Linked DNA regions of Homo sapiens. The protein of the gene in region 1 interacts with the protein of each later gene in a pairwise test. Each region holds a gene or a part of one and is shown in the gene's direction. Other genes may lie near its edges.

Region 1 (3,500 bases):
CGACAGAGAGAGACCCTGTCTTAAAAAAAAGAAAAAAGAAAAAAAGGGATCCATTGTGGCTGGAGTATAGAGAATCTGGGAGCAGGCAGAGATGAGAAAGTAGGGCTGGGCTGCATGGTCTCATGGCCATAGTAAGCAATTTGGGTTTTGAGCATCACAGGAAGCAGTTGGAGGGCACTGAGCAAGGAAGTGACAGGGATTTACAGTGAAAAAGTTTTTGTGATCACTGTGGAGTGATTTGGCTCTAGGTGGCGAGAGTAGGCATACACGGGTCTTGTGGCAGCCGTCCCAGCAATGAGATGACGTTTGTGGTTAGTGACATGGCGGTCAGGAGCCCAGGCTTTGGTTGTATCAGGAGGAAAATTGTCTGAACACAGACTTCCTCTCAGACCTCACCGGCTAGAAGCAGATTATGTGCCCACCCTCTGCCTTGTGGTCAAGGGGACTTTGCTATATAGTTCCTTATGATACAGTCCAAGCTGCTGTAATGAAGAGACCCCAAGTACAGGGCTCCACATAGGACAGAACTGATTCTTTTCTCCCATAATACTCCAGAGGTGTTCTGGGGCGGGCTGGCGCCTGAGCCCCATGGGGTCATCAGGGTCCCTTCTGTCTTGATCTTCCAGTGTCCTTGAGGTCAGGGGCCGGCAGTCTTGTCCTGTAAAGAGCCAGCGAGTGACTATCTTTGGCTCTGTGGACAGCCTTACAGGCCACCCAGGCCCTGTCACAGCCACTCGGTAGCTCCAAGGCGGCCGTGGACAGCGCGTGAGCAAGTGGGCGTGGATGTGCGCCAGTGAGACTTAAGTAAAACAGGCTGCAGGCCAGATTCGGCCCACCAGCTCAGAGACCACCATTTCTCAAATGCTTTGAAGTCAGGACTCCTTTCTGCCTTCAAAATTACTGAAGACCCTAACATGCTTTTATTGATGGGAGTCATATCTATTGTTACGTATCATAGTAGAAACCAAAACAGAAAATTGTAAAGTATTTATTAATGCATTTAAAAATGGCAATCACGGCTGGGCGTGGTGGCTCATGCCGGTAATCCCAGCACTTTCGGAGGCCAAGGCAGGTGGATCACCTGAGGTCAGGAGTTTGAGACCAGTCTGGCCAACCTGGCGAAACCCCGTCTCTACTAAAAATACAAAAATTATCCGGACGTGGTAACGCACGTCTATAATCCCAGCTACTTGGGAGGATGAGGCAGGAGAATCGCTTGACCCTGGGAGGCGGAGGTTGCAGTGAACCAAGATCGCACCATTGCACTCCATCCTGGGCAACAGAGCGAGACTCCATCTCAAAACAAAAATTAAAAAAAAAAATAGAGACAGGAGAGCTCGCTGCCTCTCTCTATTCTACGCCATGGGAGGACACAAAAGGAGGCCGTCGGCAGCCTGGAAGAGGTGCTCACCAGAACCCGACAGTGCTGGCACCCAGATCGCAAATTCCCAGCGGAAGGGACTGGGACAGGCCGTCATAGCTGTCATAGCGGAGCACCGTGGACTGAACTGCTATGAGCTTATTTCTCAGTTCTGGGAGCGGGAAGCTCAGAATGCCATCATGGTCAGTTCCTGGTGAGGGCCTCTGCCAGGCTGCAGGTGGCCTCCTTGCTGTGTGCTCCTGCTGGCAGAGATGGACAGAGTCCCGGTGTCCCTTTCTCTTATAAGGCCACAGCCCTATTAGGCCCAGCCCTTGTGACCTCAGTTAACTTTCATTACCAGTTAAAAGCTTCGTCTCCAAATACGGTCACACTGGGGTGAGAGCTTCCACATGTGAATTTTGGGAGACAAATTCAGGCCACAGCAGTTAGTTGGGGTGGCTTCTGAGTAGGCTGCAAAGTGTCTGCTCCCAGGGTGTGGGGTGCACGGCCCCACAAGTCCAGTGAGGGTGGTGCTGATGGTGACCTGCTGCTGCCAGGCCTGCTGCAAGCTCTTTCTGTGTTTTCTGGTTGAATCCTCAGGACAGGCTGCGGGAGGAGCTGCAGGACTGAGGTACAGAGGCCAGGGGCCCAGGGCAGGACCCAGCCTGGACTTGACTCCCTGGGATCCCAGGAAGGGCACACCCTTTCCTCACCACCCGAGTGAGCGCTGCCCCCTCACAGAGACCTCTTTGCCCCCTGGGCCAGGCAGAGCAGGTGAGTGCTTTATCTTACAGGGGAAACCGAGGCACAGAGGCCGGGCCTATCCTGGGTATGTGGGCGGCTCAGAAGCGCGGGTCCCAGGCCGGGTGCAGTGGCTCACGCCTGTAATTCCCAGCACTTTGGGAGGCCGAGGTGGGCGGATCACCTGGGGTCAGGAGTTTGAGATCAGCCTGGCCAACATGGTGAAACCCCATCTCTACTAAAAATATAAAAATTAGCAGGCGTGGTGGCGGATGCCTGTAATTCCCGCTACTCAGGAAGCCAAGGCAGGAGAATCGCCTGAACCCGGGAGCTGAGGTTGCAGTAAGCTGAGATCCGCCACTGCACTCCAACCTGGGGGAAAGAGCGAAACTCCGTCTCAAAAAATAAAAAGTAAAAAAAAAGAGCGTTGGTCCCATTGTGAGTCTGGGCACCGCGGGCAGGGTCTCGGCGGGCAGGGGTCTCACCGGCTTGTTCCCTGCAGGCGCTGCGGTCCGGGAGGCCCCATGGAGGTGGCGGTGCCCGTGAAGCAGGAGGCCGAGGGCCTGGCGCTGGACTCCCCGTGGCACCGCTTCCGCCGCTTCCACCTGGGCGACGCGCCGGGCCCGCGGGAGGCGCTGGGGCTGCTCCGCGCCCTGTGCCGGGACTGGCTGCGGCCCGAGGTGCACACCAAGGAGCAGATGTTGGAGCTGCTGGTGCTGGAACAGTTCCTGAGCGCGCTGCCCGCCGACACGCAGGCCTGGGTGTGCAGCCGGCAGCCGCAGAGCGGGGAGGAGGCGGTGGCCCTGCTGGAGGAGCTCTGGGTGAGCCTGGCGGGACTGCAAGCGGGGAAGGGAGAGGGGAAGGTGCCAGGGAAGCCACCAGGAAGCCCAGGGAGGAGCACCACTGAACCCCTGAAAACCAGTGTGACTCGCGGTGGGGAGGCTGCGGTACAGGCTGCGGTACAGCGTGGAGGGACAGTCCACGTGCGGCACCCTCCATCCCCACACCAGCTGCAAGTCAGGAGGGCCCCAAGACCCTGGCATACTTGCGAGTTCTCTAGGACTCACAGCCGTGTTCACGGTCACGGCTTATCAGAGAAGGACGTGCTGGAAGCAGCTGGGAAGAAGGCCACGAAGGCTCCAGGGAGCGCAGTTACCAGCTGTCCTCTCCCCGCACCCCGCCCGCACGCAGGGGGTCTTGCCGGCCAGGAATTCTCCTCAGACCGTGGTGTCCTGGGTTCTTACTGGGGACTCCTCCCCGTTCTGTGTGGCTGACCTCAGCCTCCCGCCCCCTGAAAGTCAAGGATACCCCCTGGTCCAAACTCTACCCCAAATTCATCTTGCTTTTGGGCTGGCCTGAGTCCCCCGGGGCAGGCAGACCCTCCTTATCATGCGTGAGG
Region 2 (3,146 bases), on another chromosome or scaffold:
AAAGTAATGTACATATGGCTGGATTTTTTTGCTTGCTATTCGTTTTTGTGTCACTTGGCATGAGATGTTTATTTTGGACTATTGTATATAATGTATTGTAATATTTGAAGCACAAATGTAATACAGTTTTATTGTGTTACCATTTGTGTTCCATTTGCTTCTTTGTATTGTTGCATTTAGTACAATCAGTGTTTAAACTTACTGTATATTTATGCTTTCTGTATTTACCAGCTATTTTAAATGAGCTGTAACTTTCTAGTAAAGAATTGAAAAGCAAATCTCACTAATGATACACAGATAGATAAAGCAAGTCTATCAACATTAAAAATACTAAAAAATAAAGACACACACAGAGCATTTTAGTGACATCCACTACTTATTGCCGCTATGAGTTAGAGTCTATCAGTGTTCTTGTTATAACCCCCTATTTTCAGGGGGTTAAAAATCAGCTTTAAAAAAATACATAAAAATTTCATCTTAAAGCACTTTCATTTTATACCAACGTGAAAAGTGCCATTTTTAGAATAACTTTAAAGCTTAACAGGTTTCCTTTTAATATCCTTTTTTTGTGTGCTCTTTACTTACACAATGGCTTTGTTTTGCTTTTTCAGCCACACCCCTTATGTGAACTAGTGCCTTTGGGTATCACGTAAAATTTTTTCCAAAGGGTTACTTTAAAAATCTGTTACCACAATTATGAGATGATTTTTAAGTGATAAATTAAACTTCTTCTTGTATAAATTCTGCCCAGATCTCTCCACAAGAGCTGAGGGTTTCATAACTTTATGGCTTAATAAATGTATGACACTGAAAAGATTTGAGTGTGAATCTACTGAAATCACTATAATGCACATTGAAGCTATGATGGTATTTGAGTAGTGAGGTTACTTTTGATCGGAGCAACATAATGCTCATAGAATCTTCTAGAAGAAGAGAAACAAAGGGATTGATAAAATGCTGAGAACTAGTGATTATATATTTTTCTGTATTTACCTGACATTTATTTTAATGTTCAAAAAGTAAACACTTTAAGTTTGATGTGTTTTACTCTCTCATTGTTTTAAGTAATTGCCAACTCAGAATACATCATTCTTAGGCTGAAATTTGTCTTTCCATTTTTTAAGGTGAAATAGTACTACCTTACGTGATAGCATACAAAGAAGAAAGCTCTAGAAAGAGAAATTATGGAGAATGATTATTTAAATTACAATTAAGGAAATGAGAATATGATCCCCTCTTCCGAGTTGCCCACAAACTTGCTTCTTTGCTTTTGCTCCCTGTAATAGAACTACTTTTCAACAAATCTAATTTTGCACGGCACCGTTAACCATATTTTCACTACAGCAAACTTAGTGCTATGGGTTTTCTTTTTCTTTGTTTTTTTCTTGATCACTTGTATAGGAAACAATATTTTCCAGTGTTATTTGCATATATATTTTGTCCTTCCAATATATGCATTACAGATGAAAATTAAATGTTATACCTGAATTCTTGGGTTGGGGCCAAAATATTAAGCTGAAAATAATGCTGGTGTGGATTTGTTTTAAAACAAAGCTTTATTATGAACATGCATGTGAATCTGGATATTGCCTCTTATTTTTAAGAAAATGGTTCTGTGAAAAGTGAATGATATGTATTTTTCCAAATGCTTCATGGTTAGGAGTCTTCAAGTTCCATGTTCCCCAGATTTGAGATATACTAAAGAAAGAAATTCAAAAGTAGCTATTTGGGGCCCACAAAAATAACTATTATTTTAGCCTTAGAGCCTTACACTTGTTTCATGAAGAGAAAGGACTTGCATAACCAAAATAAACAAAGCAAGACAAATTAAAAATATGTGGGGGAGAGATCAGTGAAAAGTGGTTTTCTTAATGCAGCCCTGCTGGTCCCCATTAACAATTGCTTGAAATTCACATGGATGTAAAATTATAATTGTCAGGATCTTATTCAGATGATCTTTTAAGGTTTAACTGGTTTTGCTTTTGTTTATCTATATGTCAAAATACTTGTAAATTGGGAACAAACTTCTCTCAGCTTCTTGAAGTTGTTCAACTATCCTTGCCACTGGAAGACCAAACAAGGTTTTCACTGCTTTTTCTTTTACATAATATGCTGAGAATTATTTCTTATGCTTTTTACTACAAACAAAATTACTCACCTGGATTAAAGATTAAGGCCTTAATCTGTTTAGATTATCTTTAATCTCCATGAAATCGTGAAATAAGACAAGAATAGTGTTTCAGCTGTAGGCCATTTTACAGCTAATTGCCCATAAATTGTAGCATTTATTGACCTGAAGTACTAAGCTAATTGTCTTGACTACTCAAAGCCCCTGAATTGTTGTCAACTTTCCCCTTTGTGTTGTGTAGCCCTAACGTCATTTAGCTTGTTGTCTGATGCCTCCAGTAGGACACCTCCGATGGAGCTTTGATTTCTGAGCAGCGAAAGCTCCCTTCCTAAGATGCATCTCGCATAGGCTGCCTATGATGAAGGACCGTGCACCTCCACTCCAACAGAGTGCTGAGTTTAAAAGTTGACCTGTGTTTGTAATTTCACTTTCATCTTGCTTAATAAATATCTGCTGGATTCTTTCATTCACTTTTTTACATTTGGATTTATGTTTTTAATAAAAGGGGTGTTACACTATTTGATTGCACTTAATTGGCAAAATTTAAGATGATCTCTAGAAAGCATATGTTAAGTCCATGAAAAGAAAAAAAAGGTGTGTAAGGACATTTACTTTCTAAAGCTAAGTCATAACAAGCATAGACAAAGCACCCCAAATGTTTCTCTGAATGTAATGTTTAGGATCTCTGCGCTAGGTCGTTTACCGCTATTTATTTTTATGGGGAAAATAAAACTCTCAAAAATGAAGGTAGCAATTGCTGGGTGTAATTTTGCACATTTATACAAATTTTAGGTGATCTTTCTGAAAGCAACTCTGTTGCTGTTGTCAGATTAAATTTCAAATTTTCTATTCTGTATAATGAATTAAAACAGGAAACTCAATTCTACATTTTTACAGAAGAGATGTTGCACCTTAACTGAAACAGGGCACTGAAAATTATATCTGTAGTAAAACATGCCATGCAAAAGTGTTTTCCTTTTAACTATCACTTTAGGCAAACCACTCTCTGAATCATCAC
Region 3 (3,500 bases), on another chromosome or scaffold:
CTGAGGTAGGAGGATTGCTTAAGCCCAGGAGTTGGAGACCAGCCTGGGCAACATAGTGAGACCTTGTCTCTATAAATATATCGATATAAAAGAAAGTAATTTAAATATGACTATTGTTAATTTTTTTTCCAGGAGGATTTGACAGCTAAGGATATTGAAGAAATTATTGATGAGCTCAAGGCTGGCAAAATCCCAAAACCAGGGCCAAGGTATGCTTTATTTATATATAGGAAGTTTTAGTGGCTCACCTAAATTAATCTTTCAGATAAACTTGATTTAAAAAATTTTATACCTTAAGTTCATAGGAATTGGTAGGAGCTTTGGATAGTATTATCTATATGAATCTCATCTAGAGCAAGAATAATTTTTTTTCTAAAACCCTGTCTGATAATCATCCGATACCTGAATATTTATAGAGAAGGAAATTTTACTACAAATAGAAATCTATTCCATTATTTAAAAGTTCATACTGATAGAAGATTGACCCAAAGACCATCTCCCTCTAATTTCTACCTAAAAATCCAATTCTGCCCTTTGAATCAACAAAAGATAATTTTAGTACCTCTTCCAAATGACAGCTCTTCAATTACTTGAAATAGCTACCCTGTCTTCCCCTTATCTTTTTCTCAGATGGAATATCCACAATTGTTTCATTGTTTTTCTCATATGACATAGCTTTGGTCTCCCTCTGTGGGTTTTCTAGTTGGCTAGTGACTATTTAATGCTTTAATGTGATGCTTAAACTAATCATGGTTTTTTGTCTTTTTTATTTATTTATATTTTGAGACGGAGTCTCACTCCGTCACCCAGTCTGGAGTACAGTGGCGCAGTGGCACAATCTCAGCTCAGTGCAAGCTCCACCTCCCAGGTAGAAGTGATTCCCCTGTCTCAGCCTCCCGAGTAGCTGGGATTACAGGTGCCAGCCACCACGCCCGGCTAATTTTTTGTATTTTTAGTAGTGACGGGGTTTCACTGTATTAGCCAGGATGGTCTCCGATCTCCTGACCTCGTGATCTGCCCGCTTCAGACTCCCAAAGTGCTGGGATTACAGGCATGAGCCACTGTGCCCGGCCTAATCATGGTATTTTGAGATACATACTGAGCAGCACAGAGCATTGTGGGACTGCCTCCTTTGTTCCAGACATTATGCTTGTAATAATTGTGCCTAATTATATCAACTCCTACTTCAGAGACATTACACAATTAACTGCACTTCATAATACCTAGATCTTTTTCTGTTCACTATTTATCCAGGTTGCTCCCGTCCCATACCTGTGTTACATTAATTACTTTCCTTTCAGTTATGAACTTGGATTTTCACTTTTAAACAAACCCTTATTCCATGTATGTGTTCAATCACTCAAAATTCTCTCTTAATACTAGCAAATGTTCTCATGGTTTTAGTCATAATCCCTCAAATTTTTTGTTTATGTATATAAATTTTTTCTTCCCTCAGCACATTTGGAGTTTTTGATGTCCATACGGTATTCTAATGTTTTAAAACAGCTGTGATGTGCTCTTACTCCCGTTTTAAAATATTTTTCTTAAGCTTTATTATAAATAACAATTCCCTGAAGTAGAATTACTAAGAGGGTATGAGTGGTTCTAGAGTTTGCTCTCTAAAACTACTAATAATACCCTACTTAATGAGAAAATGAGGTCAGTTCAGGATAACTTAAGTTTAGTAAATGCTAGCTGGCCCCTGTTGACCATTACTTTCTTTTCTAAGAAACGTATACTGTTCTTAACAACCTGAGCCTATAGAATTGAATTTGCTTAAAGAGTGTTGGCATTTTCTTCCTAATTCCTCACTTTCTTGGGTATACCCCTTTTTTTAGGAGGTAAATCATTTCCCTGGTGAAAAATCATTCTCCTTTATGGAGGCAACTGAAGTAAAACCTTTAGTCATCTATCATTACAGTATCTTTCTTAGCTAGTGCTCCTATCCCTTACTTATTCTTGCTTTAAATAGACACTGTCCCCCCAAAAAGTACAAATTTCATAATATTTTCCACAAGCTTCATCTGCTTTTTAGGATTCAGGTATTTTAAAATAAATTCATGCTATTCTTAGGTTTGTACTTCAGCCCATAACTTCTTTCACCTTTTGGGTACTCTAAAGAATATCTCAAGTGCAGATTTCCTTGTGAAATCCACTTGGGTTCTTTAGATGGCCCCTCTCTTCTGATTAGATGTTTTGAATTCTATAGTCATAACTTTGGTGTTGGGCTTCCTCCCCCCCACTCCTCCCCTCACCCGAGATGGAGTCTTGCTCTGTCACTTAGGCTATAGTGCAGTGGTGTGATCTCGACTCACTGCAACTTCTGCCTCCCAGGCTCAAGCGATTCTCCTGCCTCAGTCTCCCGAGCAGCTGGGACTATAAGAACGTGCCACCACCATGCCCAGCTAATTTTTGTATTTTTAGTAGAGACGGGGTTTTACCATGTTGGCCAGGGTGGTCTCGAACTCCTGACCTCAAGTGATCTGCCTGCCTTGGCCTCCCAAAGTGCTGGGATTACAGGCTTGAGCCACCACGCCCGGCCACTTTGGCGTTTAGAATCTTCTGCTTTGCTTCTTGTGAACTGTGGGATCTATGGTTCATATTAATCTAGTATTACTCTCCTGCCACACAAATTGATACCTGCTTTGTCTACTTTGTTATGTCACATTACATTAAATACTCAACAGTAATTTTTTTCACAAATTTTTTTGAGTGCCTGCTGTGTGTCAGGCATTATTTTAGGTTATGAATACAATTATGAACAAGATAAAGTTCTCATATATCTTCTAGTGATGGAGACAGATGACTAGTGTAATATGTGAGTGATAAAAAGGCTACACAATAAAATGTAGCAGGTGTTAGGGGATAGATAGGGAGTAAATTTAGTGAGGAGAGGCCGCTTAGAGGTGGTAACATTTGAGCCATGACCTGAATGAAGAGCTAGAGGGAACCATGTAAAGAGCTGAAGGAACAATGTTCCAGGGAGGGGAAAGAGGATGTATCAGGGTCCTGGAAGAAAAGTAAGGTAACAGTATGGCTGCAGTGAGGTGCTCAAGCAAGAAAGCAGTGGAAGGGGTCAGAGGAGATAAGGGCCCAGATAAGTAATCTGGGCTGAATCTTAAATATAATAAAAACTGTTGGAATGTTTTCAGTAGGGAATGGAATGAGCAATCTTAAAATACTGCCATAGTTGCTATGTGGAGATTAGAATTTAGTAGATATGTGGGACTAAGGATTTATGAGTGATTTTCAGCTTTTTGGCTTGAGCATCTCTGAGGTTCCTTTACCGAAAATAGAGAAGATTTGTGGTAGGGCAAGTTTGGGGAAGAAAAGTCAAATTTTGTTTTAGACATAGTAAGTTTGAGATGCCTGTTAAGACATCCATGGTATGATGCTGATAGGTAGATACGAACCTGGAATATAGGGAATAGGTTAGGGCTGGAAACACAAATTGGGGATTCATCAGTTACTAAGGGTAGTATTTAAAGTTATAAATCTGG
Region 4 (3,500 bases), on another chromosome or scaffold:
TATTTAATCCACCATTGATGGACACCTAGGTTGATTCCATGTCTTTGCTATTGTGAATAGTGCTTGAACTTATTTTTAAAACTACTTTTTCTGTGAGTGTTGGGAGGCTCTAAACAATAGATGCCATTTGAAGACAAGATTAGGGTAGATCACATTGAAATTTTATTTGAGAGTTAATAGTTGAAAATATTAATTTTGTAAAATAGAAGAGGGGGCTAATTCAGTAATATTTTCATGTATTAAAAATTAATTTGGTGTTATTATTATATATTAAAAAACTAGAATCAAACTGTTTTTATGTCTTCCCCTTTTTAACAATTCCAATTTAGCATTGTTTTACAAAATACTGCTTTTCCCACTGTTTATGAATATAGTATAAATGTTGCAGTAATTTATGACACTACCATTTACTTCCCCTTGAATTCTAGAACTTAATCGTGAATTGTTGTTGTTGTTGCAAAATGGTTGTAACAAATATTTAATAGTAAATCTGTGTAAAATGCTTTAGCAAAGTGCCGACTCAAAAAAGCTCTGGATACATGTAAATTATTTTCTTTTTTTGAGACAGAGTTTTACTCTTGCTGCCTAGGCTGGAGTGCAATGGCATGATCTCGGCTCACTGCAACCTCTGCCTCCCAGGTTGAAGTGATTCTCCTGGCTCAGCCTCTCGAGTAGCTGAGATTACAGGTTCCCACCACCACGCCCGGCTAATTTTTGTATTTTAGTGGAGACGGGTTTCACTATGTTGGTCAGGATGGTCTTGAACTCCTGACCTCAGTTGATCCACCCGCCTCAGCCTCCCACAGGGCTGGGATTACAGGCGTGAGCCACTGTGCCTGGCGGTTAATTCTTTTCTAATACACATAGAGTCATCAAAGTATAGGAAGCAAAAGTCTTGAGAGAATTTCACTGCATTGCCTATAAACGGGCAGGACTGAACCTTAGTCACATTTTTGGTTATTTCTGAATTAATAAAACTTACTACCAAGAATTATTATATTCAGTGGTATGCTGATAAAAGGTTTAACAATCAGCTTTCAAGAGGGGACACAAGTCAATGATTTATAGCATTTACATACCTCTACCATGGCTGCTTTTACTCAACATGCCATCATTGCATATAGCATTGGGAAGAAATGAGCAGCAGTGTGGCATTATATAGTATTTCCACCGTACAGATATGACAGACATAAACTACCTCAAGAACCTAGGTAATTGTAAAAATATAGTAAAATAATTAGGAACTGATGAGTTTTGTGTATTTATTATTTTATTTTTAATGCAATTTATTTCATTGTAGAGTTATATATTCTAGCTTTTAACAATGGCTTCCAAAATTCTTGAAAATTTAATATCTGGCTCTTGGGAGCCAGTATAAGCAGACTCTAGCAGACCTCCCCTCCAAAAGTATAAATTAGAGATTCCTAGTCCATGATCTGTGAATGAGTTCCTTGGGAAGTGCATAAAGCCTAAAAGATTTCTGAGGAGAAGTATTGGTTGAGTACCTAATGTTTGTCTGCCACTGTAGTTTAAGGATTTGGCAAACAGACAAAGACCAGCTCATGCAGGGCCTAGTAGGTCATAGTAAGAATTTTAGTCTTGAAAGCATTGAAAAGACATTGAAACTAGGGAGTGGTCCAGTAAAGTTGCTATTTTTTTTTAAGAAAAATTATTACTCTACCTGCAGAGTAGTGCAATTACTATTAGTAATTCACTACTACTAGTAATATCTGAGGGGATCATCAGCAGTGCATGGAAGAGATGTGCAAGTGATAATGGTGATTGGAAAAGAGTGGAGGTAATGAAAATACAACCTTTCACCAAATACCAGCTGAGCATTTATTATGTGTCATGTGCTACTATGGGTTTCATTTGAATTATTTTTAATTCTTTTCCTCCTGTTTTCTTATAGGGGATTCTTAAAATAATTAAGGTGTGTAGTTCTAGTCTTTTTATTAGATTAATTGCAAAGATCACTAATATATCCACTTTTGTTTTATTTGACAACTAACATATATTAAAAGCATACTGTGAATATGATGAAAGACAGGCCCAGGAACGAAAGACTGAAGAGACCTTATAACTGTCCTGGAATGGATCCTATACTGGAAGGATTTTTAAAATGCTCTAAAAGGTGTTATTAGTATAGTAGGCAAAAGTGGAACGTGGTCTATGGAACATGGTCTATAGATTAAAGTTCTGTGTTGGTTTTAAATTTCCTGAATGAGATCACCATACTGTGATTACATAAGAGAATAGTATTGCACTTAGGAAATATACTCAAGTGTGTATTAAAGAGCAGTAGAACATAATATATGTAACTCCTTTGAAATAGTTCATAATAAAGTAAATTAAATGTTTATACATGGATATATGTGGAGAGAATGTTAAAAATTAATGTGATAAATCTGGATAAAGGGAAAACAGGAATTTTCTGTGTTATTCTTGTTACTTTTCTACAAATTTGAAATACTTTCAAAATAAAAAATTTAAAAACCAAGGGTATATTGCTTCATGCATTGCATGAAGCTCTTAACATGAATGCACATTCGGTCATTCCACTCTAAGCTCTGGGATATTTTAGTACTGCAATTTCTGTTTTACAGATGAGTAAACTAAGGCTTCAAAAGTTAGGTAACTCACTTAAATGCATATTTTGAAAAAGTGGCCAAGTGTATTTGTTTTACTGCTGTGACCATTAAATCCTTACACAAAATATAAATACGTCTTTTAAGAAGTTTAGGAAAATGACTTTATTTTGTTTTGTTTTGTTTTTGAGACAAAGTCTCACTGTGTTGCCCAGGTTGGAGTGCAGTGACGTGATCTCAACTCACTGCAACCTCCACCTCCTGGGCTCAGACGATTCTCCTGCCTCAGCCTCCTGAGTAGCTGGGATTACAGGCATGTACCTCCACACCCAGCTAATTTTTTATATTTTTAGTAGAGATGGGGTTTCACCATGTTGGCCACGCTGGTCTCAAACTCCTGATTTCAAGTGATCCGCCCGCCTCGGCCTCCCAAAGTGCTGGGATTACAGGTGTGAGCCACTGCCCCCAGCCAAAAATGACTTTAAAAAGTTAAATTTCTATTATTACCAACCCCCTGCCTGTTTCCTGGAAGTAATTCCTGATATATTCCTCCAGAAATTTTGTATGCAATGGGAGTGTATATATGTGTGTATTCTTAAAATGGGAGTATAATAAGCATCCTGTTTATAATGTGCATTTTTTTATTCCATCTTAATCTCTTTATTGAGTGACTTTGTGAAGTAGACCACTTTATTTAAAATACTAAAAATTATTCATTAAAAAGTAATAGCGTTGTATCACCTCAGTTTGTATTTATGAGCTACATTAGATGCATTTGATATATGTATATTAATTTTTGGTATTTGGCTTTTGTCAGGTGGTTTTGGAATGTATGCTTAAAAAAGACCTCATTTATAATAAGGTCACTCCAACATTTCACCACTGGAAGATTGATGACAAGAAGTTTGGTCT

Evidence for each region. The genes of interacting proteins can lie anywhere in the genome.
Region 2: the proteins of ZNF444 (region 1) and LMO3 interact in binary tests that used the Homo sapiens proteins (3 or more experiments, as listed by UniProt).
Region 3: the proteins of ZNF444 (region 1) and NDUFV2 interact in binary tests that used the Homo sapiens proteins (3 or more experiments, as listed by UniProt).
Region 4: the proteins of ZNF444 (region 1) and SPRED1 interact in binary tests that used the Homo sapiens proteins (3 or more experiments, as listed by UniProt).

What each region holds. Positions count from the first base shown.
Region 1 is NC_000019.10:56,144,287-56,147,786, forward strand, and holds part of ZNF444 (zinc finger protein 444), read left to right. Parts: exon of another isoform or gene 1-1,563; intron 1,564-1,960; 5' UTR 1,961-2,134; intron 2,135-2,603; 5' UTR 2,604-2,625; coding exon 2,626-2,922; intron 2,923-3,500. UniProt on the Homo sapiens protein: Transcriptional regulator. Binds to the 5'-flanking critical region of the SCARF1 promoter.
Region 2 is NC_000012.12:16,547,872-16,551,017, reverse strand, and holds the end of LMO3 (LIM domain only protein 3), read left to right. Parts: 3' UTR 1-2,646; downstream 2,647-3,146.
Region 3 is NC_000018.10:9,126,699-9,130,198, forward strand, and holds part of NDUFV2 (NADH dehydrogenase [ubiquinone] flavoprotein 2, mitochondrial precursor), read left to right. Parts: intron 1-132; coding exon 133-209; intron 210-3,500.
Region 4 is NC_000015.10:38,318,836-38,322,335, forward strand, and holds part of SPRED1 (sprouty-related, EVH1 domain-containing protein 1), read left to right. Parts: intron 1-3,405; coding exon 3,406-3,500. UniProt on the Homo sapiens protein: Tyrosine kinase substrate that inhibits growth-factor-mediated activation of MAP kinase. Negatively regulates hematopoiesis of bone marrow.